Linked DNA regions of Homo sapiens: regions 1 and 3 are each linked to region 2. The links come from fine-mapping of genetic effects on gene expression. A gene starts in region 2. Each other region holds a variant in brackets. All regions are shown on one strand. Distances are from middle to middle. Region 1 overlaps INSR (insulin receptor). Region 2 holds the start of INSR (insulin receptor). Region 3 overlaps INSR (insulin receptor).

Region 1 (2,757 bases), 22 kb before region 2:
TGTCTATAGCAGCATTATTCATAATAGCTGAGGCTGAGTGCAGTGGCTCACGCCTGTAATCCCAGCACTTTGGGAGGTAGAGACGGAAGGATTGCTTAAACCCAAGAGTTCAAGACCAACCTGGGCAACATAGCGAGTCTCCATCTCTATAAAAATTTAAAACATTAGCTAGGAATGCTGGTGTGTGTCTCTGGTCCCAGCTACACGGGAGACTGAGGCAGGAGGATCGCTTGAGCCTAGGAGGTCAGGACTGCAGTGATCTGTGTTTGTACCCCTGCACTCCAGCCTGGGCAACAGAGCAATATCTTGTCTCAAAAGTAAATACAGGCTGGCCGCAGTGGCTCACGCCTGTAATCCCAGCACTGCGGGAGGCCGAGGTGGGCGGATCACGAGGTCAGGAGATTGAGACCATCCTGGCCAACATGGTGAAACCCCATCTCTACTAAACATACAAAAAAAATTAGCTGGGCATGGTGGCGAGTGCCTGTAGTCCCAGCTACTTGGGAAGCTAAGGCAGAAGAGTCACTTGAACCAGAGAGTTGGAGGTTTCAGTGAGCCAAGATTGCACCACTGCACTCCAGCCTGATGAAAGAGTGAGACTCCGTCTCTAAATAAATAAATAAATAAATGTAAATAAAAGGCCAGCCACAGTGGCTCACTCCTTTAATCCCAGCGCTTTGGGAGGCTGAGGCAGGTGGATCACCTGAGGTCGGGAGTTGGAGACCAGCTTGGCCAACGTGGTGAAAACCTGTCTCTACTAAAAATACAAAAATTAGCTGGGCGGGGTGGCGCATGCCTGTAATCCCAGCTGCTACGGAGGCTGAGGCAGGAGAATGGCTTGAACCTAGGAGGCGGACGTTGCAGTGAGCTGAGATCGTGCCTTTGCACTCCAGCCTGGGTGACAGAGCAAAACTCCATCTCAAAAAACAAAAAACAAAACCAAAAAAACCCCACGAAACAAAAACAAAAACAAACAAACAAACAAAAACAAAACAAAATTATGCCTCCAGTATAGCTGGAACCACAGACATGCACCACCATGCCCAGCTAATTTAAATTTGTTTTGTAGAGATAGTGGTCTCTCTATGTTGCCCAGGATGCTCTCAAACTCCTGAACTCAAGCAATCCTCCAGTCTTGGCCTCCCAAAGTGCTGGGATTACAGGTATGAACCTTCTCCATAAAAGAAGTCAAACAGAGAAGGCCACATGTTGTCTGACTCCATTCATACAAAAAAATCCGAAAGAGGCAAATCCATAGAGACAGAAAATAGATTCGTGGCTGCCAAGAGCTAGGGAAATGGGGGATGGAAAGTAGTAGCTAGAGGGTACAGGGTTTCTTTGAAGATGATGCAAATATTCTAAAACTGACTGTGGTCACAGTTGCACAACTGTAAATGTCCTCAAAACCACCTAACTGCACACTTAAAATGGGTGAATTGTATGTCA[T/C]GTGAATTCTGTCTCACTAAAGTTGTTATGAGTAAAGATTAAACAGCTATAATTGTAGGGAACAATCAAGAATTGCTTTTCTTTTTAAATATCCTATGAATCTAACTCTTAATTCATTAAAGCCGTATGTGTCCCTATTAGTGAAAGACAATAGAGCAGTTTACCACTGGGACAGAAAATACCCAGAGGATGTTAGAAATGAAGGCAGAAATAGACACGAGGACTTCTGCTGGCTTTTAACATCTCTGAGTGGGCGTGAAGGATGCTTCAAGTTCTTCATAATGGGTACCTGGTTAATGGCCACTCTTTGTACAGGTAGAAAAAGGCAATGAGGAAGAGGGTGCTAAGTGACAGCTAATATTTTCTTTTTTCTTTTTTTTTTTTTCTTTAATTGAGACTTGAGTCTTACTCTGTTGCCCAGGCTGGAGTGCAGTGGCATGATCTTGGCTTGCTGCAAACTCCACTTCTGGGGTTCAAGCAATTCTCCTGCCTCAGCCTCCCGAGTAGCTGGGATTACAGGCGTGTGCCACCACACCTGGCTAATTTTGTATTTTTAGTAGAGATGGGATTTCATCATGTTGGCCAGGCTGGTCTCGAACTCTGACCTCAGGTGATCCGCCCACCTCGGCCTCCCAAAGTGCTGGGATTACAGGCGTGAGCCACCGTGCCTGACCACCATCTCCGTACTAAAATATGCCGAATGGGCCAGGTACCATGGCTCACACCTGTAATCCCAGCTACTCAGGAGGCTGAGGCAGGAGAATCGCTTGAACCCAGGAGATGGAAGTTGCAGTGAACTGAGATCATCCCGTCGCACTCCAGCCTAAGTAACAAAGCAAGACTCCATCTCAAAATAAATAAATAAATAAATAATTCCCACATATAATCAATCCTAAAAAAAAAATGATTAATGAGATAGTCCACAGCAGTGGTCCCCAACCTTTTTGGCACCAGGGACCAATGGTAGAAGACAATTTTTCCACGAACACGGGATGGGTGGTGATGGTTTTAGAATGAAACTGTTCCACCTCAGATCCTCAGGCATCAGTTAGATTCTCATAAGGAGCAGGCAACCTAGATCCCTTGTATGCACAGTTCACGACAGGATTCGAGCTCCTATCAGAATCTAATGCTGCCATTGTTCTGACACGAGGCGGAGCTCAGGCGGCAATGCTCACCTGCCCTCTGCTCACCTCTACTGTGCAGCCCAGCTCCTAACAGGACATGGACTGCTACTGGTCTGTGGCCTAAGGGTTGGGGATCCCTGGTCTGCAGGATTTTTTTCCCATGACGCCTACGAGATGTGGTGTG
Region 2 (2,757 bases):
CCGGGGTGGCCACGGGCCTAGATCCAAGGTAGTTGGGTAGAGGGGGGCTCTGCAGTCCCTGACCCCAGGCAGCGTCACCCACCGGTGAGGCACTCAGGGCGCTTGGCTCTACCTACACCATATGCGCTCGGGGGACTTGGCTGTTCGGGGCTGTCCAGACCCAGTGACCCCACTTCCCGGCCGCGACCCAAAGATGACGCGTGTCGTGTCTCCGGAGCGACTTGGGCTCGGAGGGGCCGGGGCACGGGTCGGAGGCGCGCTCCAGAGAGGAGCCCGCGGCGGGGCGGGCACCGGGGCAAGGTTCCTCGGGCTCAGGTCGGGCACGCAGGGCGCGGAGGCGCGAGCCCGGGCGGGCAAAGGCCAAGGTCAGAGGCTTCCCGCTCCCCCTACGCGATGCAGGAGCTACCGTCCTGGCCACCGCCCCCCGCCCCTGGGGAGGGTTCTCAGTCCACAAGCGGGGGCTCGATTTTGGCTTGGGTGGGGTCCTCTCCCCATCGCGGCGCTCCCCGCCCACGCCCGCGCCCCCAGACTCACCCTCTCCGGGGTACAGGTGGCCCGCGGCGCCCAGTAGCAGCGCGGCCACCGCCACCAGCAGCGGCGCGGCCGCCGCCCCCCGCCGGCCCCCGGTGGCCATGGCTGCGGGAGCGCGGGGTCTCCTCGGATCAGAGCGCGCGGCGCTGGCCCGCGGGGGTCATGCTCCGAGGCGGCCACCCAAGAGGCGCTGGGGGCCGCGCGTCCTTCTCTTCCACGCCCGCGACCCGCGGGCCGCAGCCCCCCTGCCGGGGAGGGCCCAGAGGCAGCCCCGGGAAGGGCGCGCGCGGCTTCGCCAGCTACAAATACTGAGCGGAGGCCCTTGCGGTGGTGGCCCCGACCCCCCGGCCGCTGCGGCCCGGGCCCCGTCCCAGGATCTCGGGGCCCGGAGCTCCGCGCTGCGCCCGGGACTGTCTCTCGGCTCTCGGCCCCGCGCGCTCTGGGTCGCGATCTGCGGGCTCCGGGACAGAGGGACGCGCGGACCGACGGACTAGCTGACTGGCGGGCGGGCACCTGGGCTGGCGGGTGGCGGGCGGGCGGCGGGAGAGAGGGCTGCTCGGGCCCGTAAACAACGCGGCCCGTCAGCTGGGCCCCGTGCGGGCCGCGGGAAAAGGCGGCGCGGATCTGGCCTAGGAAGGGACTCTGCGCCCGGGAGAGGCCCAGGAGAGGGAGGGAAAGCTTGCAGGGGAGGGAGGTGCCGCCCGGCCCCGCCCCGCCCCGCCCGCCTCCCCGCCTCCCTGTGCCGGGCCCCGCGCGGGAGGCCCTGGGCGCGCCGGGACCGAGGGCGCGCCCCAGATCCGCGCGCCCTACAGCCCCGAGTCTCCTCCAGTTTCAGACCCCCGGAGGCGCCCCACAGGCCCGACGCAGCGGCACAGATCCTTTCTCTACCATTTTGCTATTTTGTTCATAGTGGGCTTTGGAGGATTCCTGTTGATTTTTTAAAAAATACTGCATTAAAATGTTTATTTTGGTGACTCGAGGTGGTTTTGGTTTCTTTCTTTTTTTTTTTTTTTCACTCCCTTAAATTTTGCACCCCAGGCGAGTAGTGTCTCACTCGCCTTTCCTCAGTCCGGGCCTGGCCAGCGACACTCGTCCCAGAGCGCGTGGGCGCCCCCAGATGTCCCGCCCGCGAGTGCGCCCCGGCCCAGGGGCGAGACCCAAGCCAGGCCCCTGGGGACAGCCACGTGCCCGCGTGCCCAGTGCGCTCCCTGTGTTCAAGTTGGAGAAATGACACCTGGAAAAATGTGCAGACGCTTCTGAAAGGGCAAAGACGACGCCAAAGAAGACGCCGGAGACCTCGAATAGGGCGCAGGTGGACATCTCTGATTTTCAGCAGACCAGCCTGTATGTGTCTGAAGTCTAGCAACGACATTCACCAACAAGGCGGGACAGCGGTTCCACCTACCTTACTGCAGGAGAGGAAGGGGCTTTCAGTATAGGAAAGCCAGAACTCAATGGGAGGAGGGTTCCTCCACCCCTCACTCCTGTGTGGTCTTGGACCAGGGACTTTTCTGTCTCTGGGCCAGTTTCACTTGTGTAATGGGTTTAATAATACCTGCATGCCAGTTCTGGGGAGGTACCCGGGAAAGAAAACTTAAGAAAGCGCCCAGCACAACCCTAGACCCAAGGCATTCATTCTTCTTTCATTCAATAAACAGTTTGCTAGGAGCTGGACCCACTGTTCATGCAACAGGCCAAACCTATTCCTGCCTCTGGGCCTTTGCCCCAGCATTTCCCTTGCCCGTAACACTCCAGGATGGCTTCATCTCTGAAGTGCCATCCCTAACCATATTTTTGCAAATCCTCCCCCCAGTTCCGTTTCCTTCTCTCTCTCTCTCTCTCTGTTTTTTTTTTTTTTTTTTTTTTTTTTTTTTTTTTTTTTTTTTTAGATGGAGTTTTTCTCTGTTGCCCAGGCTGGAGTGCAATGGCCAGATCTCAGTTCACTGCAACATCACCTGCCTGGGTTCAAGTGATTCTCCTGCCTCAACCTCCCAAGTAACTTGGATTACAGGCATGCGCCAGCACACCCAGCTAATTTTCTGTATTTTTAGTAGAGACAGGATTTCACCATGTTGGCCTGGCCGGTCTCAAACTCCTGACCTCAGGTGATCCACCGGCCTTGGCCTCCCAAAGTGCTGGGATTACAGGCCTGAGCCACTGCGCCTGGCCCCTTCTCTCTCATTTTCATAGCATGTTTACCCCACTACCTGCAATTGTTTGTTTTTT
Region 3 (2,757 bases), 170 kb before region 2:
AGAGAACGGAGGTAGCTCTTCAGGTCTCCGTGAGCCATCAGCTCCATCACCACCAGCGTGGGCTGGCCCTTGGACACCACTCCCAGGAGGCGCACCTGCAGAGCAAGCAACCAGGGTTCTTGGAGGAGGGTCCGTGATTCGACTCACCAGGGTTCTCCTCCCTCCCTGGTGTCTATGTCACACACAGCACCCTGTGGCCTGGATGCAGCGTGCTCAGCCCTGGTCTAGGAGAGCAGACATACCTGCCCGGACAGCAGACAGATAGGCCTTTGTATTTTTTTTTTTTTAATTTTCGAGACGGAATCTTGCTGTTACCCAGGCTAGAGTGCAGTGGCGTGATCTCGGCTCACTGCAACCTTTGCCTCCCGGGTTCAAGCAATTCTCCTGCCTCAGTCTCCCGAGTAGCTGGGGTTACAGGTGCCCGCCTCCACACCCGGCTAATTTTTGTATTTTTAGTAGAGACAGGATTTCTCCATGTTGGTCAGGCTGGTCTTGAACTCCTGACCTCTGGTGATCCGCCTGCCTCAGCCTCCCAAAGTGCTGGGATTATAGCCACTGCACCCAGCCAGGCCTTTGTATTTTAATCATTCCCTCTGCCTGGCTCTCTGTTCCCTGCCACATCCACAGGGCCCAGCTCCTCATGTCCTCTAAGTCTTTGCTCAAATACACCCCTGTCCAACCCTCCTTTCCTCCCTTTCTTCATGTTTCCATAGCATTTGCTCCTAATGTATAAAGGGTTTGGAGTCAGCTGGGGGTGGTGGCTTATGCCTGTAATCCCAGCACTTTGGGAGGCTGAGGCCGGTGGATCACCTGAATTCAGGAGTTCGAGACCAGCCTGGCCAACATGGCGAAACCCCATCTCTACTAAAAATACAAAAATTAGCTGGGTGTGGTGGTGGGCTCCTGTTATCCCAGCTACTCAGGAGGCCGCGGCAGGAGAATTGCTTGAACCTGGGAGGCAGAGGTTGCAGTGAGCCGAGATTGTGCCACTGCACTCCACTCTGGGCGACAGAGAGAGACTCTGTCTTAAAAATATATAAAAATAGGCTGGGCGTGGTGGCTCACGCCTGTAATCCCAGCACTTTGGGAGGCCAAGGCAGGCGGATCATGAGGTCAGGAGATCGAGACCATCCTGGCTAACACAGTGAAACCCCGTCTCTACTGAAAATACAAAAAAATTAGCCAGGCA[C/G]TGGGCGTGGTGGCTCACGCCTGTAATCCCAGCACTTTGGGAGGCCAAGGCGGGTGGATCACGAGGTCAGGAGTTCAAGACCAGCCTGGCCAGCATGGTGAAACCCCGTCTCTAATAAAAAAAAGTATAAAAAGCATTAGCTGGGCGTGGTGGCAGGCACCTGCAGTCCCAGCTACTCGGGAGGCTGAGGCAGGATAATTGCTTGAATCCAGCAGGCAGAGGTTGCAGTGAGCTGAGATCATGCCACTGCACTCCAGCCTGGGTGACAGAGTGAGACTCCATCTCAAAAAAAAAAAAAAAAAACAATCAGCCAGGCGTGGTAGCAGGCGCCTGTAGTCCCAGCTACTCGGGAGGCTGAGGCAGGAGAATAGTGTGAATCCAGGAGGTGGAGCTTGCAGTGAGCTGAGATTGTGCCACTGCACTCCAGCCTGCACAACAAAGCGAGACTCCGTTTCAGGAAAAAAAAAAAAAAAAAAAAAAAAAAAAAAAAAAAAAAAAAAAAAAAATATATATATATATATATATATATATATATATATATATATATATATATATGAAATAAAATAAAAATAAAGGTTTTGGAGTCTGTCTCCGCCTGCTGTTTTGGAAGCTCTACAGGGGCAGGTATCCACTGTATCACAGGGACAAGAGCAGGGCTTTAAATGCCCCATAAATATGTGTGGCAAGGATGAAAGCACATAGGACTCAAAGAGGAACAAAGGAGCAGAAAGGCAGGAAGAGTTGGTGCTGCCTTCAAAGGAGAGTAGGAACGAGGGCAGGTGGTATCAGGTGGACCTCTATGTGGTCCTGGGTTACAAAGGTGCCAGGAAAAAGCAAGAAATGGAAGAGTCTAAAAAGCAATGGAAGATTGTGGAAAATGATGGAAGATTCCGGAAAGTGGTGGAAGATTCCAGAAAATGATGGAAGATTCCAGAAAGTGATGAAAGATTCTGGAAAGCAATGAAACATTCCAGAAAGTGATGAGACAGTGATAGAGTCTGGTTCCAGGCGAAGTGGGAGAGGATGGGATTTGAGAAGGGAATGATCCCTCCTCACACCTCTAGGATGGGAAGCTTAGTGGAGTGAGGGGTGGGTAGGAGGTTACACCCTGTGTCCTCTGTCGCTCTGTGCAGGAGGAGGAGGCAGAGAAAGGGAAGGGTCAGGAAAGCCAGCCCATGTCCCACCCCCACTGGACTCACCACGTGATGGCAGGTGAAGCCCTTCATGACCGAGGCCTCATTGAGGAACTCAATCCGCTCTCGGAGACTGGCTGACTCGTTGACCGTCTTCACCGCCACGCGGGTCTCTGCCTCACCCTTGATGATGTCCCTGGCATTGCCCTCATACACCATGCCGAAGGAGCCCTGCCCCAGCTCTCGAAGGAGGGTGATCTTCTCTCGAGACACCTCCCACTCGTCCGGCACGTACACAGAGCATGGAAACACTACTTCTTACTTATCTACACAGCATCCTTGGAGGATCCCTTGGGGGTCTGCAGCCACCTTCCACCCAAGCCCTCACCCAAACCCCCTCGAAAACACTCATGAAATGAGTTCTGTGATCCAGGA

Evidence for each region. PIP is the estimated chance that this variant, and not a neighbour inherited with it, causes the effect.
Region 1: its variant is the best candidate, but not a certain one, in a credible set for the expression of INSR in whole blood (INTERVAL, PIP 0.72).
Region 3: its variant is the best candidate, but not a certain one, in a credible set for the expression of INSR in fibroblasts (GTEx, PIP 0.51).

What each region holds. Positions count from the first base shown.
Region 1 is chr19:7,271,697-7,274,453 of GRCh38, forward strand. The region is part of intron 1 of INSR (insulin receptor); the gene reads right to left. Among named protein-coding and RNA genes, the nearest start is that of INSR, 21 kb to the right of the region's middle. The variant T/C (reference allele first, on the strand shown) is at 1,447.
Region 2 is chr19:7,293,258-7,296,014 of GRCh38, forward strand. INSR (insulin receptor) reads right to left here and starts at 1,157. Exons shown (of 22, transcript NM_000208.4): 1 at 535-1,157. The coding sequence starts at 634. RefSeq lists an enhancer at 1-357 and silencers at 339-398, 449-588, 729-1,008, 1,029-1,418, 1,559-1,738.
Region 3 is chr19:7,122,895-7,125,651 of GRCh38, forward strand. It overlaps INSR (insulin receptor), which reads right to left. Exons shown (of 22, transcript NM_000208.4): 17 at 2,389-2,633; 18 at 1-95. Among named protein-coding and RNA genes, the nearest start is that of ZNF557, 55 kb to the left of the region's middle. The variant C/G (reference allele first, on the strand shown) is at 1,190.